Homo sapiens: one gene and its partner. The main gene of each other region encodes a partner of the protein of the gene in region 2 in a complex. Each region holds a gene or a part of one and is shown on either strand. Other genes may lie near its edges.

The links.
Region 1: KNSTRN (region 2) and SPAG5 share a complex: the UniProt entries of both Homo sapiens proteins name them as parts of the astrin (SPAG5)-kinastrin (SKAP) complex.

What each region holds. Positions count from the first base shown.
Region 1 is NC_000017.11:28,579,392-28,594,513, reverse strand, and holds part of SPAG5 (sperm-associated antigen 5), read left to right. Parts: intron 1-1,447; coding exon 1,448-2,532; intron 2,533-2,641; coding exon 2,642-2,816; intron 2,817-8,014; coding exon 8,015-8,089; intron 8,090-8,331; coding exon 8,332-8,424; intron 8,425-8,515; coding exon 8,516-8,650; intron 8,651-8,860; coding exon 8,861-8,980; intron 8,981-9,102; coding exon 9,103-9,195; intron 9,196-9,298; coding exon 9,299-9,412; intron 9,413-9,768; coding exon 9,769-9,862; intron 9,863-10,033; coding exon 10,034-10,181; intron 10,182-10,261; coding exon 10,262-10,364; intron 10,365-10,527; coding exon 10,528-10,661; intron 10,662-10,864; coding exon 10,865-11,003; intron 11,004-14,393; coding exon 14,394-14,505; intron 14,506-14,676; coding exon 14,677-14,763; intron 14,764-15,028; coding exon 15,029-15,122. UniProt on the Homo sapiens protein: Essential component of the mitotic spindle required for normal chromosome segregation and progression into anaphase. Required for chromosome alignment, normal timing of sister chromatid segregation, and maintenance of spindle pole architecture.
Region 2 is NC_000015.10:40,373,348-40,389,457, forward strand, and holds the start of KNSTRN (small kinetochore-associated protein), read left to right. Parts: upstream 1-9,373; 5' UTR 9,374-9,488; coding exon 9,489-9,697; intron 9,698-9,880; coding exon 9,881-9,975; intron 9,976-13,014; coding exon 13,015-13,147; intron 13,148-13,811; coding exon 13,812-13,859; intron 13,860-16,110. UniProt on the Homo sapiens protein: Essential component of the mitotic spindle required for faithful chromosome segregation and progression into anaphase.

The DNA of each region.
Region 1 (15,122 bases), on a different chromosome or scaffold from region 2:
ACGCCATTCTCCTGCCTCAGCCTCCCAAATAGCTGGGACTACAGGTGCCCGCCACCACAGCCAGCTAATTTTTTGTATTTTTAGTAGAGACGGGGTTTCATCGTGTTAGCCAGGATGGTCTCGATCTCCTGACCTCGTGATCCGCCCGCCTCAGCCTCCCAAAGTGCTGGGATTACAGGCGTGAGCCACTGCGCCCGGTCTGTTTGATTATTTTTTTAATAAATAATTGGACTTTCTATCTAAAGCTTCCAGAATAGTTTTTTCTTCATTGTAGCACAGAAATTTTATAATTATGTGTCTAGCATGTATCTTTTCTAGTCAGTCCTGCTTAGAAACTGGTGAGCCATTTTAATGTGCAAACTCAGGTCTTTCATTAGGGTAGTTTTCTTCTAATATTTGTTAATCAGCGCCTCATGTATATATGTTCTCTTCTGGAATTTCTTTTATTTAACTGTTAGGTATCCTGGGTTTATCTTCTAATTCTCTTAGCTTTTTCTTCAGATTTACATTTCTTTATATTTTTATCTTTGCTTTAAGATATTTCTTCCACTTGTCCAGGCCAGTAATTCTAGTTTCAACTCTAATAATTTACTCTTTCAATTCATTTTACTGACATTTTTTATTTAAAATAATATTTATTATTTCTAAAATGTCTTTGTGTGTGTATTTATGTTGTAGTTAAAGCTTAAGTACTCGTTTTTTTTGTTGTTGTTCAGATTATCATCTGTGTCTTCCAGCAGCTCTGTTTTGTTAGGGTCTACCTTTTTTATTTATTTATTTATTTTTTTTTGAGACAGGGTTTTGCTCTGTCACCCAGGCTGGAGTGCAGTGGCACGATTTTGGCTCACTGCAACCTCTGCCCCCTGAGCTTCAGTGATCCTCCCACCTCAGCTTCCTGAGTAGCTGGGACTACAGGCACACATCAGCACCACCATGCCCGGCTAATGTTTGTATTTTTAGTAGAGATGAGGTTTGAACTCAAGCGATCCACCTGCTTGTGGCCTCCCAAATGCTGAGATTACAGGCGTGAGCCACTGCGCCCAGCCGAGAGGGAGAAGAACTTGTACCAACTCTAGATTCTGACAGAGCTTAAGCCTTCACTCACACCCTATGGACCCCTCCTATCTGTTCATCTAGAAGTGCGTTAGAGTTCAGAATGGAGATGAGTGGGGTCACTTTCAAGCTACCATCTGCCCACGATATGGATCTATATTCTCAGCCTGTTTATAATGTAGGCTGGTTCACTTGGAAGGACCCAAAATGGCTTAGCAGCTTTTCTTTCCCTACTATTGGGTCTCTATATGAGCAACAAAGATTAGCCAAGTTCTTACCTAAGCAGAGGTAGTAAGAATTCTTTTCTTTTTTGAGTGCACTATCTTGCACCTGTAATTGTATGTCGGGAACTGAATTGACTGCCTTAGACAACTACTTTTGTTTCCTTTGGCAGGAAGGCAGCAACAACTCATCTCCAGTGGATTTTGTAAATAACAAGAGGACAGACTTATCTTCAGAACATTTCAGTCATTCCTCAAAGTGGCTAGAAACTTGTCAGCATGAATCAGATGAGCAGCCTCTAGATCCAATTCCCCAAATTAGCTCTACTCCTAAAACGTCTGAGGAAGCAGTAGACCCACTGGGCAATTATATGGTTAAAACCATCGTCCTTGTACCATCTCCACTGGGGCAGCAACAAGACATGATATTTGAGGCCCGTTTAGATACCATGGCAGAGACAAACAGCATATCTTTAAATGGACCTTTGAGAACAGACGATCTGGTGAGAGAGGAGGTGGCACCCTGCATGGGAGACAGGTTTTCAGAAGTTGCTGCTGTATCTGAGAAACCTATCTTTCAGGAATCTCCGTCCCATCTCTTAGAGGAGTCTCCACCAAATCCCTGTTCTGAACAACTACATTGCTCCAAGGAAAGCCTGAGCAGTAGAACTGAGGCTGTGCGTGAGGACTTAGTACCTTCTGAAAGTAACGCCTTCTTGCCTTCCTCTGTTCTCTGGCTTTCCCCTTCAACTGCCTTGGCAGCAGATTTCCGTGTCAATCATGTGGACCCAGAGGAGGAAATTGTAGAGCATGGAGCTATGGAGGAAAGAGAAATGAGGTTTCCCACACATCCTAAGGAGTCTGAAACAGAAGATCAAGCACTTGTCTCAAGTGTGGAAGATATTCTGTCCACATGCCTGACACCAAATCTAGTAGAAATGGAATCCCAAGAAGCTCCAGGCCCAGCAGTAGAAGATGTTGGTAGGATTCTTGGCTCTGATACAGAGTCTTGGATGTCCCCACTGGCCTGGCTGGAAAAAGGTGTAAATACCTCCGTCATGCTGGAAAATCTCCGCCAAAGCTTATCCCTTCCCTCGATGCTTCGGGATGCTGCAATTGGCACTACCCCTTTCTCTACTTGCTCGGTGGGGACTTGGTTTACTCCTTCAGCACCACAGGAAAAGAGTACAAACACATCCCAGACAGGCCTGGTTGGCACCAAGCACAGTACTTCTGAGACAGAGCAGCTCCTGTGTGGGTAAGCGCCCCTATGTCCTTGCACCTCGTGAGTTCCATTACCCTGGACCTTCCCCTCCCATCCCTTCCCCTCCTTTTCTTTTCGTCATGTTCTTCTCTTTCTGCTGCAGCCGGCCTCCAGATCTGACTGCCTTGTCTCGACATGACTTGGAAGATAACCTGCTGAGCTCTCTTGTCATTCTGGAGGTTCTCTCCCGCCAGCTTCGGGACTGGAAGAGCCAGCTGGCTGTCCCTCACCCAGAAACCCAGGACAGTAGCACACAGACTGACACATCTCACAGTGGGGTAAGAAGGTTCCTCTCAAAGCTTGAGGGATCCCAGTGGGGATCCTTGGAATTTAAGCTGAGAAGCTGCCAGAGGGCAAAGGGGACTCCTATCACAGGCTTATACTTAGAACATTTGCAAAAGCTGAGAATCTGGGCAGTCACAATGGCTGATGCCTGTAATCCCACTGCTTTGGGAGGCCAAGGTGGGAGGACTGCTTGAGGCCAGGCATTTGAAACCAGCTTGGGCAACACAGCGAGATCCCATCCCTACAAAAGATTTTTAAAAAATCAGCTGGATATGGTTTTGCATGCCTCACTACTCAGGAGGCTGAGGCAGGAGGATCATTTGAGCCCAGGAGGCTAAGGCTGCAGTGAGCTATGATCATGGGCAAGACAGTGAAACCCTGTCTCTTAAAACAAAAAAGCTGAGGATCTGGAAAATCCCCTTAAAGCTGTGGGTAGTCACTCTACCCCTGGGGTACATCAGAACTTTCCAAAGGAGTGCAAGCAAGGAAACTTTTAAAGGAATTGGTTTTTAGATCATCATCTTCCACAAGTATTCTTTTTCTTCGTTTTTTGCATTGGTAGACTATATTTAATATTTTAAGAAAAATTATGAATAAGCCTAAAACATTTTTTAAAATAATTTTTAATTTTTGTGGTTACAGAGTTAGGTAAATATATTCATGGAGTCCATGAGATGTTTTGATATAGGCATGTGATGGTCAATAATCACATCATGGAAAATGGAAAATGGAGTATCTGTATCTGTCCCCTCAAGCATTTATCCTTTGTGTTACAAGCAATCCAATTATACTTTTAGTTTTTTTTTTTTTTTTTTTTTTTTTGAGACGGAGTCTCACTCTGTCACCCAGGCTGGAGTGCAATGGCCTGGTCTCGGCTCACTGCAACCTCTGCCTCCCAGGTTCAAGCGATTCTCCTGCCTCAGCCTCCTGAGTAGCTGGGACTACAAGCGCATGCCACCCCACCCGGCTAATTTTTGTATTTTTAGTAGAGACAGGGTTTCACTATGTTGGCCAGGCTGGTCTCGAACTCCTGCCCTCATGATCCACCTGCCTCAGCCTCCCAAAGTGCTGGGATTACAGGCGTGAGCCACTGCGCCTGGCCCCTGTTGTTTATGTGAAGAAGATTTCTCAGTGTTTACATCTGTCAGAATGGAAAGGAGTCAGCTGGCATAGTGGCTCACCCCTGTAATCTCAGTACTTTGGGAGGGTGAGGTGGGAGGATCGCTTGAGCTCAGGAGTTCAAGACCAGCCTGAGAAGTATGGTGAAACCTCATCTCTACAAAAAAATACAAAAATTAGCTGGGTGTGGTGGTGTGTGCCTGTAGTCCCAGCTACTTGGAAGGCTGAGGTGGAGGATCACTTGAGGCTAGGAGTTCAAGGCTGCAGTGAACTGAGATCTTGACACTGCACTCCAGCCTGGGCAACAGAGCCAGACCCTGCCTCAAAAAACAGAGTCACGAATTGTTGCTGAACTATTTCTTATTGCTGGAATTATAGTAATCCACAGATATACGAACTAATAAGGGGAAGGAATCTCCATCGATTTCATTAATAGGTGATTCCCAATTAAATTTTGCCGAGCATGTTTATTTTATTAGAAATTATATTACAGTGACTAATATACAACTGATTAAAAGATTTCTCTATCCTAAAGAAAGCTTTTTCACTTTAAAGCCTTCCGGTCAAAGGAATTTAAAGGAAATTTTAATTTAAATTTAGATGAACTTTCATTGTTGTTGCAGAGATGATGGTTAATAACAGATTTTATTTTTATTTTTTGAGATAGTTTCTTGGTCTGTCACCCAGGCTAGAGTACCATGTTGCGATCAGGGCTCACTGAAGCCTCAGCTTCCTTGGCTCAGGTGATCCTCCCACCTCAGCCTCCTGGGTAGCTAGGACTGTAGGTGTATGCCACCACACCTACCTAATTTTTTTGTATTTTTAGTAGAGATGGGGTTTTGCTATGTTGGCCAGGCTGTTCTCAAACCCCTGGGCTCAAGTGATCTGCTAGCCTTTGCCTCCCAAAGCACTGGGATTACAGGTGTGAGCCACTGTGCCCAGCTAATAACATACTTTAAAGCATAAAAATATATTACATTAGGCTGAAATTCTGAGAAAAATAAAAAATATATGTTCAAAGAGAAAAAGGGATGACATAATAAAATTTCTGACTGCTAAGAAGAGCTTTTTCTTGTATTTTTAAAAGATAGCAACTAGGTATCTCATCATTTTGGTGTATGTAGTATTTATGCCACTGGATATATTTAAGAGTAATCTAATAATTTTATTTTAGGCTGGGCATGGTGGCTCATACCTGTAATCCCAACACTTTGGGAGGCCGAGGCGGGAGGATCACCTGAGGTCAGGAGTTCAAGACCAGCCTGGCCAACATGGCGAAACCCCGTCTTTACTAAAAATACAAAAATTAGCTGGGTGTGGTGGAGGGCACCTGTAATTCCAGCTACTTGGGAGGCTGAGGCATGAGAATCGCTTGAACCCGGGAGGCAGAGGTTGCAGTGAGCCAAGATCGCGCCACTGCACTCCAGCCTGGAGGATAGAGTAAGACTCTGTCTCAAAAAAAAAAAAAATTATTTTAAATTGTCAATATTGGTAATATGCTGGACATTACAGCCTTTGCAACAATTTAAACTTAAGGGTACTTAGTTTTTGCAGGAAATATTAGAGGAAAGTAGCTAAAAGACCACTGTTGGCCCAATGTGGTGGCTCACGCTTATAATCCCAGCACTTTGGGAGGCTGAGGCCGGCAGATCACTTGAGGCCAGGAGTTTGAGACCAGCCTGGCTAACATAGTGAAACCCCATCTCTATTAAAAATACAAAAGTTAGCTGGGTATGGTAGTGCACTCCTGTAATCCCAGCTACTTGGGTGGCTGAGGCATGAGAATTGCTTGAACCTAGGAGGTAGAGGTTGCAGTGAGCCGAGATCACCCAGTGTACTCTAGCCTGGGCAACAGAGTGAGGCTGTCTCAAACAACAACAACAACAATGTTCTAGAGGATTGTATTACAACACAGGCCTAAGAAGGAAGGGAATGGTGGCAGGTGAAGGAATTGATAGCACCTCACCATTGTGGCTGTTGAGATAATAGGTGGCTGCTGCTAAGAAGAGATGGTCCCCAAATGTGCAGAGACCTCCTTTGAGTTGAAAATATCCTCAAAGTAATGACCTTACCATTTGCCAAAAATCCTGGAAACCATAAGCTCCATGTTCCTCCAGCTGTTCAATTTCCCTCCTGTTTTCTTATCTTTGTGTCCTTTCCTCTTGTTCTTGACCTTGTTTCCCATCCCTGAATCTGCCATGCATCCTCTTCCCCTGAAGGTTGCCAGGTCCCTTTGTAGGCCACTGAAGCAGAACCAAAGAGGGGAAATGACATACCTTTAGCCATTCTCCATCAGCATGCCATGTCCTTGCTGCCTGGCTGCCTCCTTCACATTAATCTCATCACCTGCCTGACTGTCCAGCTGAGCACGATGTGAGCCCTATCCAAGCTCATGTGCTACTCTGTGCCTTATTTCACGATGCAGCAGTGAATGATAACTGCTTTGCTGGGGAAGGGAGCCATGAACTCCAAGAAATCAGCAGTGCTGCTCCAGTAGTAACTTTTCCCCCAGATGATGGCTGCCTTGCCTCAGTAATGAAGACTCCCACTTTTCTCTTAGAACTTGTCTTCTGGGGTTCTACTGCCTTTGAGATCATACCTACTTACTCTATGCATACTATGAGTTTTATCTATCTGACCCAGGATAATGAGCAGACAATTAAGAAAGTAAAAATGATGAATAAATACCTAAGAAGGTTAGCATTATTGGCAATAAAAAATGCAAATTGAACAGTGAGATGCCATTTTCTTGTGACTCAATAGCAAAGAATAAAATAGGTAATGCTGGTAAGCATACTCTATTTATCTGCAGGATATAAATTGGTTCATCCTTTTTTTTTTTTTTTTTTTTTTTGAGACGAGGTCTCACTCTGTTACCCACACTGGAGTGCAGTGGCACGAACATGGCTCACTGCAGCCTCTACCTCCTGGGCTCAAGGGATCCTCCCACCTCAATCCAGCTGAGTAGCTGGGAATATAGGCATGTGCCACCATGCCTGGCTAATGAAAAAAAATTTTTTTTTTTTGAGACGGAGTTTTACTCTTGTTGCCCAGGCTGGGGTGCAGTGGCGTAATCTCGGCTCACTGCAACCTTGCCTCCCGGTTTCAAGTGATTCTCCTGCCTCAGCCTCCGGAGTAGCTGGGATTACAGGCACGTGCCACCACGCCTGGCTAATTTTGTAGTTTTAGTAGACATGGGGTTTCTCCATGTTGGTCAGGCTGGTCTCGAACTCCCGACCTCAGGTGATCCGCCCGCCTTGACCTCCCAAAGTGCTGGGATTACAGGTGTGCGCCACCGCGCCCAGCCTTTTTTTTTTTTTTTTAGAGATGGGGTTTCACTGTGTTGCCCAGGCTGGTCTTGAACTCCCGGACCCAAGTGATCCTCCTGCCTCAGCCTCTGAAGGTGCTGGGATTACAGGCATGAGTCACTGTGCCTGGCTAAACAAAGAAATTTTTTACCTACCTGTGGATTTTTCTTTCTGACTTGGCTTCATTGAATTGAGTACTTTGCTTCTGCTTTTAATAGGAAAGGTGGCTGGGTGTGGCAGGAGCACTTTGGAAGTCCGAGGCAGGAGGACTGTTTGAGGCCAGGAGTTTGAGACCAGCCAGGGCAACATAGCAAGACCTCATCTCTACAGAAAATAAAAAATAAATAAAATAGGAAAGGCTCCTATAACTCACTGGGTGGGAGGAAGAATGAGGTGCTGGTGGTACATGTTGCCTACTCAAAAGGAACAACTTGGCTGGTCATGGTGGCTCACCCCTGTAATCCCAGCACTTTGGGAGGCCGAGTCGGTGGATCACTTGAGGCCAGGAGTTCAAGACCAGCCTGGCCAACATGGTGAAACCCCGACTCTACTAAAAATATACAAATTAGCTGGGTGTGGTAGTGCATGCCTGTAATCCCAGCTACTTGGGAGGCTGAGGCATGAGAATTGCTTGAACCTGGGAGGTGGAGGTTGCAGTGAGCTGAGATTGTGCCACTGCACTCCAGTCTGGATGATAGAGCAAGACTCTGTCTCAAAAACAAACAAACAAACAAAACAAGGAACAACTCTGTTTTTCTGGCTAGATAACTAATAAACTTCAGCATCTTAAGGAGAGCCATGAGATGGGACAGGCCCTACAGCAGGCCAGAAATGTCATGGTAAGTGATGATTGACCTTACACCACCACTGGGTCTCCTGTGAAGATGAAGAATGGAGAATCCTGGGTGGTTAGTAGATGGTGATACTAAGTCGTGGTGGTGAAGGGAGGTTTCCAAACATTTGTAAAGTACATCTCCTTATGCGGAGCTTGGAATTGGGGTTAGCGGTTTTCCTCCCCAGTGCCCCTGTTTCCTGCTTAGTGACTTTATTTGATCTCACCTACCCATTTTTTTCTCTACAGCAATCATGGGTGCTTATCTCTAAAGAGCTGATATCCTTGCTTCACCTATCCCTGTTGCATTTAGAAGAAGATAAGACTACTGTGAGTCAGGAGGTAAGCAGCCTGAAGATGGAGGTGGAGGCCTGTGGTGGGACTAAAAGCCATAAAGAGGAACCAGACACATTAACTGATTCTTACCATATAGTCTCGGCGTGCAGAAACATTGGTCTGTTGCTGTTTTGATTTGCTGAAGAAATTGAGGGCAAAGCTCCAGAGCCTCAAAGCAGAAAGGGAGGAGGCAAGGCACAGAGAGGAAATGGCTCTCAGAGGCAAGGATGCGGTAAGGTGACAGGCATTTGTTCTTGGATGTGGGAGGTTTCCACCTCAAGGTTCCTGCAGGAACACAAATGCACTTTAGACACAGATGGGTGGCCTAAGAACTGCCTGCCCTGGGCAGTAAAGAACTGATCTATTGAGGTGTCATGGTTACATCTTTTTGTGCTGGCTCCCCTGTTGCCCACTGTGGCCTTGCAACCACTTCCCTCAATAGGCAGAGATAGTGTTGGAGGCTTTCTGTGCACACGCCAGCCAGCGCATCAGCCAGCTGGAACAGGACCTAGCATCCATGCGGGAATTCAGAGGCCTTCTGAAGGATGCCCAGACCCAACTGGTAATTTAAGGGCATTTTCTTTCCTGGGGTCTGTGCTGACAGACTGGGAGGGTAGTTGCATACTCCCACTTTGCTGTATCCAAAGGGAAGGGGTTCCCGCCTAGGCAATCTTTCTTTTGTAGGTAGGGCTTCATGCCAAGCAAGAAGAGCTGGTTCAGCAGACAGTGAGTCTTACTTCTACCTTGCAACAAGACTGGAGGTCCATGCAACTGGATGTGAGTATTTGGGACCATCATAACTAATTCCTTACTCACATCAAGTCCTGTTGTGAGCTTTGCCTCAAGTGTGCTCTACTGACCTGCTTGCTTCCCCTGGTAGTATACAACATGGACAGCTTTGCTGAGTCGGTCCCGACAACTCACAGAGAAACTCACAGTCAAGAGCCAGCAAGCCCTGCAGGAACGTGATGTGGCAATTGAGGAAAAGCAGGAGGTACAAACCAAGAGTGGGGACTGCTTAGGCTTGGTTTCCTTCCTAATGTGTGATACCATTAGCCTCTTACCCTGGATCTGTTTTCTTTTCACCCTGTGGGTTTGGAGGCCAGCCAGTAAGGTCTCTTAGCTGTAAGATGGCCTTAAGCGCAGTTTTTTCCTTTGCCCTTCAGCATCTTTACTTCAGCAACTTTTCTCCTGTCTCTACTTTTTCCTGAGGATCAACCTTATTTTCTGCAATGTTGATGCCCAGGAGCAAGGTAGTTTTCTGTCTTGTCCAGAAAGAGAAGCTGGACCAAGTCCTGGGATTATTGATTCAGGAGGAACTATAGGAGGAAAACCATCTGTTCTTCCTAGGTTTCTAGGGTGCTGGAACAAGTCTCTGCCCAGTTAGAGGAGTGCAAAGGCCAAACAGAACAACTGGAGTTGGAAAACAGTCGTCTAGCAACAGGTGTTTGTGTGTGTGTGTGTGTATGCATGCATGTAAGCATTTGAGCCCTGTTAAGGCTTGGAGTGTGGCACTAGAGCAAGGAAGTACTCAGGAGCACTTGCTTTGGAGCAGAAGTTTGGGGAGTTTCTAGCCTGCTGACCGCATGGTGTCATTAGGATACTTTTGTTCTAGATCTCCGGGCTCAGTTGCAGATTCTGGCCAACATGGACAGCCAGCTAAAAGAGCTACAGAGTCAGCATACCCATTGTGCCCAGGACCTGGCTATGAAGGATGAGTTACTCTGCCAGCTTACCCAGAGCAATGAGGAGCAGGCTGCTCAGTGAGTTCCTAACGGGGTACTGTGGCAGTAGGCATCCAGGATTTAGGACCAAATGGGATCTAATATGTTGTCTCTGGCAGATGGCAAAAGGAAGAGATGGCACTAAAACACATGCAGGCAGAACTGCAGCAGCAACAAGCTGTCCTGGCCAAAGAGGTGCGGGACCTGAAAGAGACCTTGGAGGTAAGGAATATGGCTTGGGCCAAGGGAGCTGGTAAGCCTCAGGAGTGTGATTCTTGCCTGATAGTGTTGAGGTAAGGTTTGAGACTGTGAACTAGAAAAAGCCTCTGTACCCAGGGCACTAAAATTCTCCCTCCCTGTCTTGCTCCTTCTCTTGTCTTCCCAGTTTGCAGACCAGGAGAATCAGGTTGCTCACCTGGAGCTGGGTCAGGTTGAGTGTCAATTGAAAACCACACTGGAAGTGCTCCGGGAGCGCAGCTTGCAGTGTGAGAACCTCAAGGACACTGTAGAGAACCTAACGTAAGTTCTCTAACTTTCTGTACTTCCCCCTAAGTGCTTATTTTTTTCTCAGGAACACTTCTAGAAGCCAAAATCTCCAAGAAGAGAACTGTGAGTGTTGAGCCTCTTGTTTCTCTCCTTTAATGCAGCTCTGTGGGGATTTGGGATAGGCGTTCAGAGAAGGTAATTTGGTCTTTGGTCATCTTCCCTGTTCCTTATTTCAGGGCTAAACTGGCCAGCACCATAGCAGATAACCAGGAGCAAGATCTGGAGAAAACACGGCAGTACTCTCAAAAGCTAGGGCTGCTGACTGAGCAACTACAGAGCCTGACTCTCTTTCTACAGACAAAACTAAAGGAGAAGGTAGGATCCTGGGGTTCCTTCTCTTCTCTTCCAATTGTATCTTTATTTTACAGATAGTCTTCCTAAAACATTACTCTTTTTCTAACTGTGACCTTTTATGATTTCAGTTACCTACAGGACCTCATTAGCCTGTTGCTCAAACCTTTCTTCCCCTGTCTCCTATCTCCCTATTATGAACACTTTGCCCCAGCTAGACTGCCTGTATGCTACACACATGTCCCCATTTTTATCCCCAGAACCCAGACTCTGGCTGTTCCCACATTCATTCTATTCTTTCTTCAAACTGGAAATGCCTTTTCTATTAAAATCCTCCCTTCCGACCTGGGCAACGTGGTGAAAACCATCTCTACAAAAAAATACAGAAATTAGCCCAGGTGTAGTGTTGTGAACCTGTAGTCCCAGCTATCTGGGAGGCTGAGGTGAGAGGATCACCTGAGCCTGGGAAGTTGAGGCTGCAGTGAGCCATGATCATACCTGGCTAATTTTTTTGTATCACTGCACTCCAAACTGGGTGAGAGTGAAACCCTTTCCCCCACAAAAAAAGAAATCTTCCCTGGTTTACCTTCTTTGAACTGTTCCCAAATCAAATCATGTGGACCCGGTGATCTTTTCTTCTGCCATATTTCTCATGAACTTACTCTTCTTTTGTATTTGTATTAATTTTCCTTGGATACCTGGTCTCTTCAACCAGACTATGTTTCAAGAAAGCAGAAATATAGCCTTCTTTGGCCTCCCTGCAGTGTGCACTAAACAATAAATGGTTGACATCATTCAGAATACAAAGGTAATTAGCTTATTCAGCAGATAAGGCACAACAAATATCCTAAAATCTGGCAATTGCTTATGACCTGATCCTCTTCCCCAACTGGGTACCGAGCACAGGAAATGCCATCAAATCTACAGTTTAGCATGGAAGACAAACAGATGTAAACTTGTCATCTTGACTTATGATCATGGTAGAGGTCTGCATGGACCACTGTGAGAGATAGAGAGGGGAGCACCACTTCAGCCTTCGAGAATTAGGATGCCTTCTCAAAGCAGCTGACCTTGGGTACAGTCTTGAGGTTTAGACGTTTGTGGGGCAGGGGAGGGTATTTAGGAAGTCCCACTAGGCAGAGGGAACGGTGTATGAAAGTTTCATCTGACTACATATGAGAGTCGTACGTAGAAAGTCATGCACATAGTACATGATGTGTTCTTTTTTATAGTGTCTACCTTATAAAACCTGGGTTAGGTGCTGGGACTAGAGGATGAACAAGGCAAGATGCTGCTCATATGGAATGCAGCAAGTCTGAGGAATGGGAAGCAGCTCTTCATGGCTGCAGCGTGAGAGCTCTGTGGGGCAAGGCAGGAGACAACACTGGAGAAGTAGGCAGGAGGCCAGATTTTGAAGGCTTGAAATAATGGCAGTTTTATAGGCAGTAGAAAGGAGAGGATGGAGTGAATGGATTCAATAGATATTTAGGAAGCAGAGGCAGTAGAACCAATTTGATGTAAGAGTGACCAATTTGATGTGAGAGTAAGTTAGAAGAGTGAATGATGATCCTTAGATTGCTAGGAAAGAGGGCCCAGCGGGTCAGCTGTGTTAGTGTGTGGAGACTAGGGCTAGTGACACCTCCGGGTCAGCTCTGTGCCCAGGAAGCACTTCAACCTGTGTGGCAGGAGGGATAGCAATAGGAAGCACTTCAATTCCCCACAACTCAGACACCCAGACGGGAGGGCAGAGGACCAAGGCTGAAAGGAGTAGAGAGCCTGAGAGAGAGATGAGACTGAGGGGAGCTAGTGGTGACTCAGGCTAACCAGTCAGCGGGAGAGACCTAGACCGGGGGGCAGAGAAGGCGGGAGAACTGGAGAGAGGACCTAGCCTAGGAGGAGAGGGAGCAGGCTGAGAAGGAAATGCTCTGGGTAGGAGAGACAGACTCCAAGGAAAAATCCAACAAGTAGAGGAGGATTTGGGATTGGAAAAGCTGAGGTCCAGCTGGGAGAGCTGAAGAGGGATAGAACAGAAGAGGTTGAGCCATGGGGTTTCAAGTACGCGGAAAGGAGCAAAGATGTTAGGAAAGGGTCGAAAGGGCACATCCCGGAGTCCCAGGTAGCAGGACGAGGATGGCAGGGGAAGAGCCAAGGAAATGAAGCGGAGATGTTGAGTGGCTCCCGCCTTGCCTGGCCTTACCTGTGCGCAGCCAGTTAGCAGCCGCAGCCACAAGCACAGCTACTTCAGGACTGAGGCCAGCAAGCTTTTCCTATAAATGGCCATATAATAAGTATTTTTGGCTTTTTGGGCCATATGGTCTCTGTCTCAACTACTCAATTCTGCCTTTGTAGTTCAAGAGCAGCCATAGATGATACAGCCATTAATGGGTCTGGCTGTGTTCCAATAAAACTTTATTTACAAAAATAGTTGGCAGGCTAGATTTGACCTGTAGGCCACAATTTGCTAGCCTTCCCTCTCCCTGCTCTAGAATAGTAAATACAGGAGTAGGAACAGACTTTTGATAGGGTGTTCCCTATCAGGGCACAGGGAAAATGGTGAACTCAGCTTCATACATACTAAGTTGACAGATTGACTGTGGAACCTTCTGGTAGATTCTTCACAGGCAGTTAGCCTTTGAGTCTGCAGACTGGGAAAAAGACTGGGAAAAAGTTGAGAGAGGGATGGAAGAGTCATTCATGTGGAAGGGAAGTTTGAAGTAGATGTTTTTGTGATGCTCCCAAGGCAAGGCCACCCTGGGAATGAATTAGAGTAAATTTAGGGCCAAGGACTTAACCCAGAGGATCCAGCAGTTAAGGAAGGACCTGTGAATAGAGAAGAAATAACCAGAAAGGTGTGGGGCCTGCCTTTAAAGGAGAGAGACTCATGTCCTGGAAGCTAAGAAAAGGAAGTTTCTAAAAGAACAATGTGGTCATCAATATCAAATAGGTCAGGTAAAACAAGAGCTGAAATATATGCATTGCATTTGAAAGTAAGGCTGCCATTGGTGAACCAAATGACAAGAATTTAGGTGGAATGACAGGGGAGAAGCCTGAGTGTAGTGGGCTGGGGAGTCAATAGATGGTGAGAGTTATAAACAAGAAGTATAGGCTCTTTTTTTCTTTCTTTTTTCTTTCTTTCCTTTCTTTCTAGAAAAGGCAGTAGCTAAAAGGGGATTTAAGGTAAGAAGAAGGGTTTTGTTTTGTTTTGTTTAGGTTTGTTTTTAAAATACTGCTGTTTTTGTTGGAGAGGCTTAAGAATATAAACATGTTCAGAGAAAGGCACTAATGGAGAAGTTGAAGATAGAGAATTGAGATAATAGGTGGAACAGCATTTTGGAGGAGATGGCTGGGAGTTACCTGGAAGCCCAGGAGTTCACTAGACCTGAACAGCAGCTATTTTTTCTTCTTTGCCCTTAGACTGAACAAGAGACCCTTCTGCTGAGTACAGCCTGTCCTCCCACCCAGGAACACCCTCTGCCTAATGACAGGACCTTCCTGGGAAGCATCTTGACAGCAGTGGCAGATGAAGGTTAAAGGCCCTGGGATTTGGGGGTGGGAAAGTTGTGACGCTGCTCCTGATATCTTCTGCTGTTGAAGATGTCCACCAGCGGGCTTGTCTATCTTACCCTGGCTTCCATTATGGTAGACCCCTGCCTGGATCATCAGAGGGGCCCTCTCCCATTATTGGTTTTTCTCTTAGAGCCAGAATCAACTCCTGTGCCCTTGCTTGGAAGTGACAAGAGTGCTTTCACCCGAGTAGCATCAATGGTTTCCCTTCAGCCCGCAGGTTAGGAGGGGCTCCAGGGATCCTGCCTCATTTCTAGAAAATCTGGTGGTGATGAGTAAAGACGAAAGCAGTGAGAAGTGCTTTGCTCTAAAAACCTCAATTCTACTTGGGCTCATTTTATTTCTGCCTTCTGGGATCTGTAATGTTCCAGACATTCAAATCCTGTGGGTGGGGAACACGGATAAGAGTTGTGGAAATGATGGCTATACACTCCTTCCTTCCAGGGCTGGAAGGCTAGACCTCTATCTGGGACTTTCTCTTTCAGAGACCCCAGGCATGGAGGAGAGCCTGGCAGAAATGAGTATTATGACTACTGAGCTTCAGAGTCTTTGTTCCCTGCTACAAGAGTCTAAAGAAGA
Region 2 (16,110 bases):
TTTGTGCCACTGATCCTTGAACTCACATTCTGAGTACGAGTATGTATCCTGTATGCTATTAAAATATAACTTGAGGCCGGACATGATGGCTCATGCCTGTAATCCCAGCACTTTGGGAGGCTGAGGCAGGTGGATCACTAGACGTTAGGAGTTTGAGACCAGCCTGGCCAACATGGTGAAACCCCGCCTCTACTAAAAATACAAAAATTAGTTGGGCGTGGTGGGGGATGCCTGTAGTCCTAGCTACCCAGGAGGCTGAGGCAGGAAAATCATTTGAACCCGGGATGCAGAGGTTGAAGTGAGCCGAGATCGTGCCACTGCACTCCAGCCTGGATGACAGAGCAAGACACCGTCTCAAAAAATAAATAAATAAATAAGTCGGGCACGGTGGCTCACGCCTGTAATCCCAGCACTTTGGGAGGCCAAGGCAGGTGGATCATGAGGTCAGGAGATCGAAACCATCCTGGCTAACATGGTGAAACCCCGTCTCTACTAAAAATACAAAAATTAGCCGGGTGTGGTGGCGGGCGCCTGTAGTCCCAGCTACTCGGGAGGCTGAGGCAGGAGAATGATGTGAACCCAGGAGGCAGAGCTTGCAGTAAGCCGAGATTGCGCCACTGCACTCCAGCCTGGGCAACAGAGCGAGACTCCATCTTAAAAAAAAAAAATATATATATATATATATGTAAACTTGATATAGTCTGTTACCATGGGAAAACCATCCTTCCATGGCTGTGGTGATTTGGGGACTTTTAGAGTGACAGTGTTAGACAGACTGATTTTATTGGCTGAATCTTAGATTTTACTGATATATAGCATATCCCATACCATGATATGCGGGCAATATTCCAGCTTGAGACAATTTTTTTTTTTTTTTTTTGAGACAGAGTCTTGCTCTGTCGCCCAGGCTGGAGTGCAGTGGCACAATTTCGGCTCACTGCACTAATTTTTTGTATTTTTAGTAGAGACAGTAGAGTATTTTTAGTGTTAGCCAGGATGGTCTCGATCTCCTGACCTCATGATCCGCCTGCCTCGGCCTCCCAGAGTGCTGGGATTACAGGCATGAGCCACCGCGCCTGGCCGAGACAATTTTTAAAAAGACATTTCTCAAGAGAGTTATAAGCCAAAATTTCCCTAGCCCCCTCCAACTCATTCTGTCCTTCTCCCAGTGCATGTCAGGACAGGGAAGAAGGCTTTAAATCAGATTTTAAGAAAGAGGATACATTGGTTTACAACCTTTGCCTATCGTCCAGAGAGTTTCTGATCTTTTCTTTTTTTTTGAGACGGAGTCTTGCTCTGTCGCCCAGGCTGGAGTGTAGTGGCACGATCTTGGCTCACTGCAAGCTCTGCCTCCCAGGTTCACGCCATTCTCCTGCCCCAGCCTCCCGAGCAGTTGGGACTACAGGCACCTGCCACCACGCCTGGCAAATTTTTTGTATTTTTAGTAAAGACGGGGTTTCATTGTGTTAGCCAGGATGGTTTCGATCTCCTGACCTTGTGATCCGCCCACCTCGGCCTCCCAGAGTGCTGGGATTACAGGTGTGAGCCACTACACCCGGCCCTGATCTTTTCTTTGACGGTGGCAGTATCTCATTTTTTGATAATACACATGGGTAATGGCAAGCTCTTGGGACCCCATGCCAAGCATCAAGATCCCATTTACCTGGTGATAGGAAAGACAGACATTCCTCACCCTTTCTACCCACACCCTTGTTCACAGGGATGACTGTAACTAAGGTCTGCAGGTATTTATGCTTAGGAGAAGAAATCGTAGTTCAATTCACCAGGAATATGAGAAACAAAAGAAAGCCACTATGTGCTATGTAAATGTCTGGCCATCCAAAGCCACCTTATGCAGAGGAACACTGGAAGGGCCTTGATAAATTTCTCATAATTATTATCGGGCCTCTTTGTGATTACTCACATTTTTCTCAATATAGGGGAAAGATCAGCATTTTACCAAATCCACAACCATCAAACAAACAAGAGCTTTAATATTGCTAAAGAAAATCACACAGCTGAGCAGATTGATGTAGATTTGAATTCATGACCACCTATCTTAACTGGACCCTCAGCTCTGCCTAGCTAGTATTCATTCTAGCTACTAGTTTTGATTATTTGTATTGACTCTTTTATATTTTCTCCACCTTCCTCAAATATCTCACCTTCCCCCACCCCTCAGTGGACAAAAAAAAAAAAAAAATTCTTCATGAAGAAAACTGAAGCCTTCAAATAGAAATTTCCTCACCTTCAAGGCACCAAAGCCACAACTTACCTACCCCCGCTCCTGCCTGCTCCTCTCCCCATCCCTTCTGCTACAACGAAGGAAGCAGTAATGGCTCCATCAATGGCTTCTCACACTTGGTGTCAGAGGCCTTCACACGAGGGTTTGCACTCCCCTACAAGGACATGAAGACTTTCTAGAAGGTAGGTGGACACAGATAGTTTTAAAGTAATCAGTTTCCAGAGCCGCCTTCTCCATATGTTCCCCTCCTTATATTGGTGGGCCTAAGAAGCCACAGGCCTGACAGCTGTCCTTCCCAACTTCCACTTTCCCAGTTGCCTCCCCTCCCTCATTCTGAATCCTACTCTGGCTCCTTGCTCTGCGCTGTAAAAAACAAATAAAAGGGCCACTTGAGAATGCTCTGCTTGAGGAAGTCCTTGAAAGAGCAAAGCCTGGAGAGCTTCTTTGAGAAAGTTCACAGGGGCAGCCCTGTGGCTCAGTTCTGTGCCTTCTTCATTTAAGAATTCAAATTCATTGACATGTTATATTGTAAAATATATAAATATATATTAAAAAGGAAAAAATAATAAAAATTTTTAAAAATAATTCAACTTCAGGTGAGACACAGTGGCTCATGCCTATAATCCCAGTGTTTTGAAAGGCTGAAGTGGGAGGATGGCTTGAGGCCAGGAGTTTGAGACCAGCTTGGGCAACATAGCAAGATCCCGTATCTACAAAAAATAATTTTAAAAATTAGCTGGGCATGGGCCGGGCGCGGTGGCTCACGCCTGTAATCCCAGCACTCTGGGAGGCCGAGGCAGGTAGATCATCTGAGGTCAGGAGTTCAACACCAGCCTGGCCAACATGGCAAAACCCTGTCTCTACTAAAAATACAAAAATTAGCCGGGCGTGGTGGAGCATGCCTGTAGTCCCAGCTACTCAGGAGGCTGAGGAAGGACAATCGCTTGAACCCTGGAGGCAGAGGTTGCAGTGAGCCAAGATCATGCCATTGCACTCCAGCCTGGGTGACAGAGCGAGACTACATCTCAAAATAAATAAATAAATAATAAAATAAAAATAAAAATTAGCTGGGCATGGTGATATGCGCCTGTAGACCCAGCTACTCCAGAGGCTGAAGCAAGAGGATCACTTGAACTCTGGAGTTCGAGGTTACAGTGAGCCATAATCACATTATGGCACTCCAGCCTGGCAACAGAGCGAGACCTTAACTCTAAAAAAAGAAATAAAGAAGAATTTAAACTGAAAGTGAGATGGTTGACACAGGATACATATTAACCACATTGATTTGAATGGAAAAATAAAATCAGACTTTTTCTGTTAGAAGGTCAGAATTGGCTCACAGGTTTGACAGAGAGGATAGTCTTTGCAAGTAGGATGTATGGTGGACATTTTCCCTAAAATGGAATAACTTTAATCTGCAGCTCCACAGTTTGAACAAAAACAGACTGAAGGCTGGGCGTGGTGGCTCATGCCTGTAATCCCAACACTTTGGGAGGCCTAGGCGGGCAGATCACGAGGTCAGGAGATCGAGACCATCCTGGCTAACATGGTGAAACCTCATCTCTACTAAAAATACAAAAAAATAGCTGGGCGTGGTGGCGGGCACCTGTAGTCCCAGCTACTCAGGAGGCTGAGGCAGGCGAATGGCGTGAACCCGGGAGGCGGAGCTTGCAGTGAGCCGAGATTGCGCCACTGCACTCCATCCTGGGCAACAGAGTCTCAAAAAAAAAAAAAAAAATTTTTGACTGAAAGTACAGATACAACTTCCCTTTCCAGCCAAGATGGAGGAGCAGGGGCCAAGTTTATCCTCCTGCCTGAAACAACCAACCAAACAGTAAATACATGAAATAATGAGTTTCAAGACACTGGACATGAGGTAACAAAAGACAGTGATCTCTCAGAGGCAAGAAACAAACAAGGAGAACCCCTCGGTTGCCCAGCTTACCGCTTGAGAGGATGTATTTCACGGAGGGAGAACCCAGGCAAAGCAAGTGACTCTGAGGTGAGGGGATAGCTGGGAGTGTGGAGCAGCCAAGCTGGCTAGAGTGCTCAGGACAGGGTACTGGAGAGGAGAAAGGTGGATATATAGAGAATTCTGGGGATCTGCAAAGGGCCCCCCTTGAGTGTTCCACAGAGCATGATTCATCATATAAGTGTAAGGAAACCACTTGAGACAAAGGAAAGGACCACCCAAAACAATGGGCCGGAACAGTAGCCAGAAGTCACACACAGCCTGGACCACGCCTGTCCCCATCAGCCAGATTGGAAAACCTCAAATTTATGGAGCATTGGTCAGAGGTCTCAGAAGGGCCTTGCCTCGTAGTGGGGATTCATTAGCCCTAGTTTAAACATTGCTGGAACCTACCTAACAAATCTCAAAAGCAAGACCTGAATTCAGGAATCAAGCTGTTTCTAAGTAACTGAAGTGTATCCCAGAACAAAACCCAAGAACATTAACAGAAATCCAAAATTAACGAGCACCCAAAAATGTAAAATTCACAATGGCTGGTTTTCCAATAAAAAATTACCAGTCATGCAAACTATAACCCATCATAAGGAGAAAAATCAGTTGAAACCACTACAGCTGACACCTATGTGAGAATTAGACAAGGACACTAAAAGAATTATTATAACTGTATTCCATATGTACTAAGTAGAGACTAGGAAGATATTTTTAAATACCCACTTTGAATTTTAGAGACGAAAACTAAAATGTCTGAGATGATGGGGTGGGTGGGGTAGGCAGAAAGAGGAGGATGGGAAGAAGTACCAAGGGGAAGGAGGAATGATTTGGGGATGACGGCTGTGTTTATTATCTTAATTGTGGTGATGGTTTCACAGGTATATGTAATTTCTAAACTTATCAAATTGTACACTTAAAATATGTGGTCTATGGAATGTTAATTATATCTCAATAAAGCTGTTAAAATTGTACTGAAACAAAACCATTGGGGGAAACTGGGTAAAGAGTCCAAAGGACCTCCCTATACTATCATTGTAACTTCCTGTCAATTATAACGATTCCAAAATAAAGAATTTAAAAGTGTTTTTAAAATTAAAAAAAAAAAGTCTGAGATGGAAAATCACTGAATGGAATTAACAACAGTTTAGACGTTGCAGAAAAAACAGTAGTGCACTTGAAGACATAACAATAGAAATTATCCAAAAAACACCAAGAGAAAGAATTTTAGAAATGAATACAAAGGGCTAGGCGCAGTGGCTCATGCCTGTAATCCCAACACTTTGGGAGGCTGAGGCGGGCGGATCACCTGAGGTCAGGAGTTCGAGACCACCCTGGCCAACATGGTGAAACCCTGTCTCTGCTAAAAATACAAAAATTAGCCTGGTGTGGTGGTGCATGCCTGTAATCCCAGCTACTCAGGAGGCTGAGGCAGGAGAATCGCTTGAGTACGGGAGACAGAGGTTGCAATGAGCCGAGATGGCACCACTGCACTCCAGCCTGGGCAAAAGAATGAGACTCCATCTCAAAAAAAAAAAAAAAAAGAAAAAAGAAAAGAATACAAAGTATACACAATGTGACCAGGTGGGTGGCTCATGCCTGTAATCTCAGCACTTTGGGAGGCCAAGGTGGGAGAATCAGTTGAGGCCAGGAGCTCCCGACCAGCCTGGGCAACATAGCAAGACTTCATCTCCACAAAAAAATTTTAAAATTAGCCAGGCATGGTGGCACGTGCCTATAGCCCCAACTACTTGGGACGCTGAGGCAGGAAGATCGCTTGAGCCCAAGAGTTGAAGGCTGCAGTGAGCTATGATCGCACAACTGCACTCCAGCCTGGGAAACCAAGCGAGACCGTATCTCAAAAAAAAAGAAAAAAAGTATACACAATATACAACAGGCAGAAAGTATGTCCTTTACAATGATTTAAAGTTATGAAAAAAATTTAAGCCAGGTGAGATAGTGCATGCCTACAGTCTTGGCTACTTAGGAGGCTGAAGTGAGAGGATGGCTTGAGTCCAGAAGTTCAAGGCTACAGTACGCTATCTATGATCACACCTGTGAATAGCCACTGCACTCTAGCCTGGGTGACATAGCAAGATCCTGCCTCTAAAAAAATAAAAATAAAAGTAAACTTAAATTTTAGGTATCAAGTGAAAACAGGCAAGAGGGTTTTTTTATTTTTTTATTTTGTGGGGGCGCATGAATAAAGGAATTTAAAGATGCTACTCTGGATCCCATCTTCCTTCTTCCTTGCTCCTGAGTATCCTTTCCCTCTGTTCTGCTGGCTCGTTCCTATCAGCACACATATCCACAGCTTTAAGGAAAGCTTCCTTTGACCCCCATAACCCATCTCCAGTTACTGCCCAGTTGCTCTGCTCTTTTTGCAACAGACGCCTGGAGTTCTGCCATCTCTGCTTCCTCATCTCCCACGTACTCTTCAACCCATGCCCATGTGACTGCCACTCCAAACGCTCCACCAGCATTCCTCTTGCTAGACTCATCATGACTTCTCTGTTGCTAAATTCATTGGATGCTTTTCGTTCTCATTCTGCTTGCCCTTTCAACTATTTTCAATAGTTCACCACTCCCTCCTTCAGCAGCTTGCCACTTCCTCCTTGGATTTTGGAACACCACCCTTTTTTGTTTTCTTCTCACCTCTCTGGCACTTCTTTATCAGGTTTCTTGGCAAGCACCTTATTACCATTGCAACTTTTAAATGCAGGTGTCCCTGTCCTTGGCCCAAAGGCTCTCTGCACACTTCTTCTCTTGAGCTCATCAAATATCAAGGTTTTATTTTATTTTTTATTTTATTTTGTTTGAGACAGAGTCTCGCTCTGTCACCCAGGCTGGAGTACAGTGGCACCATCTCGGCTCACTGCAACCTCCACCTCTGAGGTTCAAGTCATTCTCCTGCCTTAGCCTCCCAAGTAGCTGGGATTACAGGCATGCACCACCATGCCTGGCTAGTTTTTTGTATTTTTAGTAGAGATGGAGTTTCACCATGTTGGCCAGGCTGGTTTCGAATTTCTGGCCTTAAGTGATCCCACCTCAGCCTCCCAAAGTGCTGGGATTACAGGTGTGAGCCACTGTGCCTGGCCATTTTTTTGTATTTTTAGCAGAGACGGGGTTTCATCATGTTGGCCAGGCTGGTCTCGAACTCCTAAATATCAAGATTTTAAGTACATTCATATGTCAACAACTCCCAAGGGTGTATCTCCAATCCAGGCTCTCTTCTGGGCTCAGGGCCTGTATTTCCAATTGCCTACTTGACCACTCCACCGGAATGCCTCAAAGATATGTCGAGGTTTTCCACGTTCAAAACCCAACTCTCAATCTCCCCCAGCAGAAAATAGTGACTCTATCCACACAATTATTCAAGCCCAATTATTCGAAAAGAAAAAGGACTGGGCGTGGTGGCTCACGCCTGTAATCCCAGTACTTTGGGAGGCCGAAGCGAGCAGATCACCTGAGGTCAGGAGTTTGAGACCAGTCTGGCCAACATGGTGAAACCCCGTCTCTACTAAAAATATAAAAAATTAGCCAAGCGTGGTGGTGGCACTGTAGACCCAGCTACTCGGGAGACTGAGGCAGGAGAATCGCTTTAACTCAGGAGGCGGAGGTTGCAGTGAGCCGAGATCGTGCCACTGCACTCCAGCCTGGGCAACAGAGTGAGACTCCGTCTCCAAAAAAAAAAAGAAAGAAAAGAATATATATATAAAGTATATATAAATTGAGCCAGGTACAGTGGCTCATGCCTGTAATTCCAACACTTTGGGAGGCTGAAGTGGGAGGATCATTTGAGGCCAGGGGTTTAAGACCAGCCTGGGCATCATAGCAGGACCCCATCTCTACAAAAATTAGCTGGGTCTGGTGGCAGGCACCTTTAGTCTTAGCTACTCAGGAGGCCGAGGTGGGAGGATCTCCTGAGCCCAGGAGTTCAAGGTTGCAGTGAACTATGATTGCACTCCAGCCTGGGCAACAGAGTGAGACCCTGTCTCAAAAAATAATAATAAAATAAAATAAAATATAAATTGGATGACACTCTCCTGCTATAATACTTCAGTGGCTTTCCATTACTTTTAGATAAAATCTAATCTCTATACCTTGGCCTGTAAAATCTGTCTTTTGACTGCTTATTTCTCCAGCTTTATCTGTACCACTCTCTTCCTATCTTTCTGTGCCTATAGAAGAACCCATTTCTGCCTTGGGACTTTGCATTTTCCCCTTTCCCCAATGAAATTAACTCCCTCTCCTTCCTTAATCAAACATCATCTCAGAGAGGTCTTCCCTGAGCCCCCAATATAATCTAAGTTTCCCTGCTTTTCTATCTTATACGATTTTGTACTTTTTCTTCATAGTGTGTGTGTTTTGGTTTGATTTTTGAGATCACGCTCTGTCACCCAGGGTGAAGTGCAGTGGCGCGATCTCCGCTCACTGCAACCTCTGCCCCGCCCAGGGTCACATAATTCCCCCACCTCAGCCTCCAGGGTAGCTGGGACTACAGGAGCATGCCACGACACCTGGCTAATTTCTGTATTTTTTGTAGAGACGGGGTTGCACCATGTCGCCCAGGGTGGTCTCAAACTCCTGGACTCAAGCAATTCACCCGCCTCCACCTCCCAAAGTGCTATAATTACAGCTGTGAGCCACTGTGCCCAGCCTTCTTCACAATTTCACCACAATCCGTAAATATATATTTATTTATGTGATTATTTGTTCACTGTCTGTTTTCTAAGTTGTAAACTCCAGGAGGGCAGAGCCAAGGTCAATCTTGATATTTGCCCTCCCTCACTCCCTTCCACCCACTGAGAACACTGTTGGGTAATCAGCAGGTACTCAATAAATGCCAGATGAAATGAATGAGCTAGTGCATTTAGTAATGGAAGCTACCCTGTTTATTGGGAGTAGCTTTGAATCACTACTGAAAATCTGGATAAGTGCTATTAAAATTAGGACCTCAGGTAGGTGCCTCAGGTATCTCAGCCCATAGGTCCTTTTCTTCAAGCCTCACCTGCCACTCTCCACCTGTAACGTGTAGTTTTCATCCAAATAACCTGTGCTCCTGGCAATATCCCTAACAATCCCAAACTAAATAAAGAGGATTGTGACATGGACCCTAAATGTCGCCACGTTTGCGTCTCCATCCCGGAATATGACGCTGGTAGCTCATTAGCTCCATTCAAGCCTACAAATTGCATCACCCTCCTCCTCTGCCCAGACCTGGGGGCTCCAACACCTTTCGCTAGGTCTGGCTCTGGCCTCTGAGCGAACCTTCCGTACAGTATGGCGGCTCCCGAAGCCCCGCCCCTGGACAGAGTTTTCCGTACAACATGGCTGTCTACAGAGTGCGATTCCCACCCACTTCCGCCTAGCTACCGGAAGTTTCTATTTGAAACCCAGGCGGCCGACTTAGCCGGTGGCACGACAGTTGCTGCAGGGAATCTTTTAAACGAGAGCGAGAAGGACTGCGGGCAGGACCGGCGGGCTCCTGGGTTCGGCTCTCCCGGGGCGAGGGACTGGGCTGGATGGGAGGAAGGACGGAATGAGCTGGGAAAGGAGGATTTTCTCTTTTCCAACCCCGAGCCGGGGCCTGTCGGGTCGCGCTATCCCCGGGCCCTCCACTCTCTCGGGCCCAGTGGCCCAGCGCTGGGTAACATTCATCCTGTACCTTCCAGGGTTCAGCCGTGCCGCCTCGTTACGATGACCAGTGTGGTTAAGACAGTGTATAGCCTGCAGCCCCCCTCTGCGCTGAGCGGCGGCCAGCCGGCAGGTGAGGGTCCAAGCCACGCCCGGGGCACTGCGGCCTGGCCGGGGATGGTCTCGGGAGTGTGGAGATCGAATGGGTGGCGCGGGCACGGGGAAGGGCGTCCCGTCGGCCCTGAAAACCTGTGAGCCCCCTATAACCAGGCTATGTAGGTTTATGATGGGAGTTAAGGGAAGGACCATGTGGTAGGATTTTAGACGTGCTCTGCACTTTTCTGCCCGCATGTGTACTGTATTCATCAGTTAGATTCAAGTTGTTGGTTATTGTACAATGTTATTCCCATTAAGCTAGGAATCCCCTTCTAATCGGTTATCGTCTTATTTCCAGACTTGGGCTATCTTGAGGGATTGGGTTTGTTTTCAGGGAGGAAAGAGGAGAATCATTTGAGAAGTGGGATACTTAGGGTTCTTTGTTCACCTTTATATCTGCACCGTGTTTCTCATTACCACATTCTCAATACACGTTTGTTGAGTGAAGTGGGAGAGAGGGGTTAGACCTAGGCACAGTATTTGAGAAACTTGGGCGAAGAGAGAGACATGATTAAAAATAGTTTTTAATTGCTTTGCCATCTGCTTTGTGTTGCTTTGCTTGTGGTTGAAAGTCATCTCATGGGGTCTGCAGTCGGGGAACTGCCTAATCTAGAGATTATAGTACAGAGTAAGCTTCAGACATCAGAAAACTGTTGTGGGAGATTATGGAGTAGCTATTTATGATCCCTTCCCAGATGATTCCACTCAGCTGGTACATAAACCTTGGCAAGATGGAGCGCTGAAGTGGCCAGGCACGGTGGCTCACGCCTGTAATCCCAGCACTTTGGGAGGGCGAGGTGGGCAGATCACGAGGTCAGGAGATGGAGACCATCCTGGCTAACACGGTGAAGCACCGTCTCTACTAAAAAATACAAAAACTTAGCCGGGCGTGGTGGCGGGCGCCTGTAGTCCCAGCTACTTGGGAGGCTGAGGCAGGAGAATGGCGTGAACCCGGGAGGCGGAGCTTGCAGTGAGCCGATATTGCGCCACTGCACTCCAGCCTGGGCGACAGAGCGAGACTCCGTCTCAAAAAAAAAAAGATTGAGCTCTGAAGTAAATAGGCTTTTCTCCAAAGGCTTAATGGGTTGTTTGTTGTCTTGTGTTGCCGCAGAACACCTGAATGGTAATCCTGGCACCAGCGGGGACTAGGAGTTGCTGGAAGAACTGGAGCCAGGTCTCTCAGCTGCTGTGTCTTTCCCTTAGATGCGGTGCCCCTGAGTCAGTGGGCAGTGACTAGCTCTCTCAGCCAAGTTGGAAGTGTTCATCTCTTTGATTTCTATCTCTGTCCCAGCTTTATGATCATATGTAACTGGAACAGTTTCAAATTTTTAGGCTGCCTCCCAGGATTTTTGTTTTGATTTTGAGCGTGGGCTGGATAAGTAATATATGCACATGTGAAAAAAAAAAAGGTGGAAAACCATATACAATGATAAACAAGTTTCCTTCCCTTCCTTGACACCAGCCATCCAGTTCCTCTCCCAGTGTCTCCCATTTTTAAGAGACAGCTTTGTTAAATCCTACTGAATTTTTCCTACAGTGCAATCCTAGATTTTAGCAAATACAAATTATTGGAACCAATTCTAGTCAATGAAGAGTGTTAATTTTGATCAATTGACTGTTAACTCCATTTTACATGGAGTAGATTTGTTATTGTTTAAAACTTACTAATACTTGAGAGAGGAGAAGATGATATTCCTCCAAGATTACCTTTTTCTTCAGACAGACACCTCAGAAAGAACCCTTTTAATACTTCATTTGTACTGCATTTCTTCAATTTGATTTGATTGTAATGGCTCTTAAGTTAGGTCAAACTTAAAGGGGCCATTTTACAGTGAACAAAGTGAGAGTAAGTCCAGAAAAGCCTGCATGTGAGGGTGGGGGTGCTTAACTCCAGATAAGTTACTTGAATTTGCTGTAGAACACAAATGATAGATTGTGTGGTTGCGGGGCTGGCACAAGGATAGAGGAAAATGCTCTCCTTTGGGGAAGAAGAGTGTTATGGCAGGGCCATTTCTCTGGTTATCTGGCAAGAAGATCAGATTAGAATGCCTAATAGGGAAACTCTAAACTTAACAAAGGGTAAACAAAAGGGCTAGTGGTAGAGGCAGGCAGCATGGAAGAGGAAGGGACCAGACAGGTGGTTTAGAGATGGTCTGTGAAACAACCCATGGAACTGTGAAGTGTTTCATTTATTCAACAAGCAGTTATTGAACCCCTGTTCATATGCCAGATACTTTCCTAGGTGATGGGGACACAAAGATGCCTTAGAATGGTTAGGAAGACATTCTAGTAAAAACAACGAAGTAACGGTTTAAAAAAACTCAGAGCAGCTCAGTCATGCCTTAGGAGAGTGTGCAGAGTGCTTGGAGGAGCTTAATGAGATGGTACAAGGATTCAGGCATGTTTTACCTGCTAACTTCCACCCTGCTCTCTGCTGGTGTCCATCTCCATGTTCACTTTTACAGCCTACACCTTTCAGTTCAATGAAACTTTTGGCTACCCTCAAACATGCTGTACTGTCACGTTTAAATAATTTTGGTTTTTATTGCCAATTAGCCTGGAAGTTTTATTCTTTTGAATTAATCTTCACATGTTGAAATTTGCCAGAATGAAAATAAAGATTTGGCCAGGCATCGTGGCTCACGCCAGAGTGGCCAAGGCAGGAGGATTGCTTGAGCCCAGGAGTTCGAGACCAGGCTGGGCAACATAGTGAGACCCTGTCTCTATTTTTAAAATTTTAAAACATATTTGAGGTGCCTATAGTCCAGCTACTCGGGAGGCTGAGGCAGGAGAATCGTTTGAACCCAAGAGGTGGAGGTTGCAGTGAGCCAAGATCACACCACTGTACTCCAGCCTGGGCCACAGAGCAAGACTCTGTCTCAAAAAAATAAATAATACTTTTTAAAATAAAGTAAAATAAAGATTTATGACAACTTCGAATGGGGCTCTGTTTGTTACAGGGTTGCAACTGTCGGGTCATGATGCCAGAAGCTTTACCTCTCATTTTCCTTTGCAGACACACAAACTCGGGCCACTTCTAAGAGTCTCTTACCTGTTAGGTCCAAAGAAGTCGATGTTTCCAAACAGCTTCATTCAGGAGGTCCAGAGAATGATGTTACAAAAATCACCAAACTGAGACGAGAGAATGGGTGAGAACGGATCATTAGTATCCAGTTAGAACATCTTCCTAGAAATTGCTCAATACAAAGAATTAGAAAACAGAGTTTTGGACAACACAAGTCTCCTGAACAACTGGCCTTCAATCAGTGGCCCAGAGCAGTGCAGCATTGCTGAGCTCTGTGCCAGAACCCTCTGTGTTGATCTTTCTGAAGAGACACAGCCAGAGTTATAAGAGGTGTTCTTTCCTCTTTCATCGCTTGCTCTGAGCATACAAGTGGCAGCACTGTAGTCATACAGCAACCCTGAGGGGTAGTCATGCAGGGTGGGGACTAGTTGTTATCCTAGGTTGCTGCTCTGACCACACAGTCCAGCCCTAGTGTGTGTGTATGTCCCCAGCCAGCAGTCAGTTCCAGGTGAGTGAGGTTGACATGAGATAGCCACGCCATCTTGAGAGGAACAGCTCTGTCAGGTTGTTAGGGTGGTCGGAGGCATGCCCCTTTGCTACTAAAAAGCCTTTTCAATAATCTGTGCCGAAGCAGTAATGCATAGTCTCTCAGAGCTCTTAAGCTTGTGCCATTTGCCTTTTATGTCTGGTTCTTTCCTCAGAAACTCAAGCTCTTTGTTCTGCCTGTTCACAGCACACTTAACAGTACTGTAAGTCTCTGATTCATTTCTTTGTTTCTGCCCTCCTAGGCAAATGAAAGCTACTGACACTGCCACCAGAAGGAATGTCAGAAAAGGGTGAGCATCAGGGTAAATCAACTTGGCCACTATTCTAGGGTAGTGGATCTCAATCCTTGGTTCTGCATCAGAATCATTTGTGGGACTTGTTTACTGTGTTAGGGTCTGGGTTCCACCTCAGGAACCTGAGTGGAATTTTCAGGGGTGAGGCACAGCTAGGTGTAAGAACCATTGTCAGTGCAAGAATCACTGGTGCTACTATCTTGTGTCTCAAGCAAGAGCTTTTTGGACTCCACGCCAGGACCACTGCTGATTGGAAATCACACTTAGCTATGGCCCATCAACAGGAGGGTAAAGCCTTCAGGAGAGGAAGGGCTGGGTGTATGTAGTTAGTGATCTCGAGATGAAGATTCTGGTGGTGGTGGTGGTGAAAACCTGGAGAAGGATTCATGTCTCATCTTTGAGGCTAGTTTGGAAGTTTTGCACTATCAGAAATAGAAATAATAAGCTGAAAAGTCTGTACAAATAGGTTTTAGTTCCAGATCTATTATTTGGGCATATCTTAAAAGTTTTGAAGACAGCAGGGCACACCAGCTCACACCTGTAATCGCAACACTTTGGGAGGCCAAGGTGGGTGGATCACCTGAGGTCAGGAGTTCGAGTCTAGCCTGGGAAACATGATGGGACCCCATCTCTACTAAAAATACAAAAATTAGCCAGGCATGGTGGCGCATGTCTGTAATCCCAGCTACTCAGGAGGCTGAGGCAGGAGGATCACTTCATCCCGGGAGGCAGAGATTGCAGTGAGCCAAGATCACGTCATTGCATTCCAGCCTGGGTGACAGAGCAAGACTCTGACTTACAAAAATAAAAAAGTTTTGAAGACAAAATACTAGCAAAAAAGACTGAGAACTTTAAGAAAAAACTCTAATATTGGTTGCTGAGACCAGCTTGGTCGGGGAGACCCTAACCCAGCGGCGCTAGAGGAATTAAAGACACACACACAGAAATATAGAGGTGTGAAGTGGGAAATCAGGGGTCTCACAGCCTTCAGAGCTGAGAGCCCCGAACAGAGATTTGCCCACGTATTTATTAACAGCAAACCAGTCATTAGCATTGTTTCTATAGATAGTAAATTAACTAAAAGTATCCCTTATGGGAAATGGATGGGCTGAATTAAAGGAATAGGTTGGGCTAGTTAACTGCAGCAGGAACACGCTCTTAAGACACAGATTGCTCATGCTATTGTTTGTGGCTTAAGAATGCCTTTAAGGGCCGGCGCAGTGGCTCACGCCTGTAATCCCAGGATTTTGGGAGGCCGAGGCGGGTGGATCTCAAGGTCAGGAGACCATCCTGGTTAACTATGGTGTTTCACCGTCTCTACTAAAAATACAAAAAATTAGCCAGGCATGGTGGCGGGTGCCTGTAGTCCCAGCTACTCGGGAGGCTGGGGCAGGAGAATGGTGTGAACCCAGGAGGTGGAGCTTGCAGTGAGCCGAGACCACGCCACTGCACTCCAGCCTGGGCGACGGAGCGAGACTCCATCTCAAAAAAAAAAAAAAATGCCTTTAAGTGGTTTTCCGCCCTTGGCAGGCCAGGTGTTCCTAGCCCTCATTCCCGTAAACCCACAACCTTCCAGCATGGGCATTAGGGCCTTTATGAACATGTTACAGTGCTGCAGAGATTTTGTTTATGGCCAGTTTTGGGGCCAGTTTATGGCCAGATTTGGGGGGCCTGCTCCCAACAATTGGTGATATTAGAGTTTATTAGATGATAAACTAACATTAGATAATAGCCCAGCTACTGGGCTAAGAAATGCACACGTGTTTTCTCTCTTATTACTCATAATAATAATACTATGAGATGTGGGTATTGTCCTGATTTCAAAAATGAGGAAACAAGGCCTCAGGGAGGTTATGCAACTCACTGAAGGTCATATACCACTGTGTAATAGCCAGGATAGAATGGGACGTGTTTGTGTAACTCTGTAGGCCGTATTTTTCTTTCTTTTTTTTTTAGACGGAGTTTTGCTCTTGTTGCCACCCAGGCTGGAGTGCAATGGCGCAATCTCAGCTCACCACAACCTCCGCCTCCTGGGTTCAAGCGATTATCCTGCCTCAGCCTCCCAAATACCTGGGATTACAGGCATGCGCCACCACGCCTGACTAATCTTTTGTAATTTTAGTAGAGACAGGGTTTCTCTTATCTTGGTCAGGCTGGTCTTGATTTCCCGACCTCAGGTGATCTGCCTGCCTCAGCCTCCCAAAGTGCTGGGATTACAGGCATGAGCTACCGCACCTGGTGTGGGCCA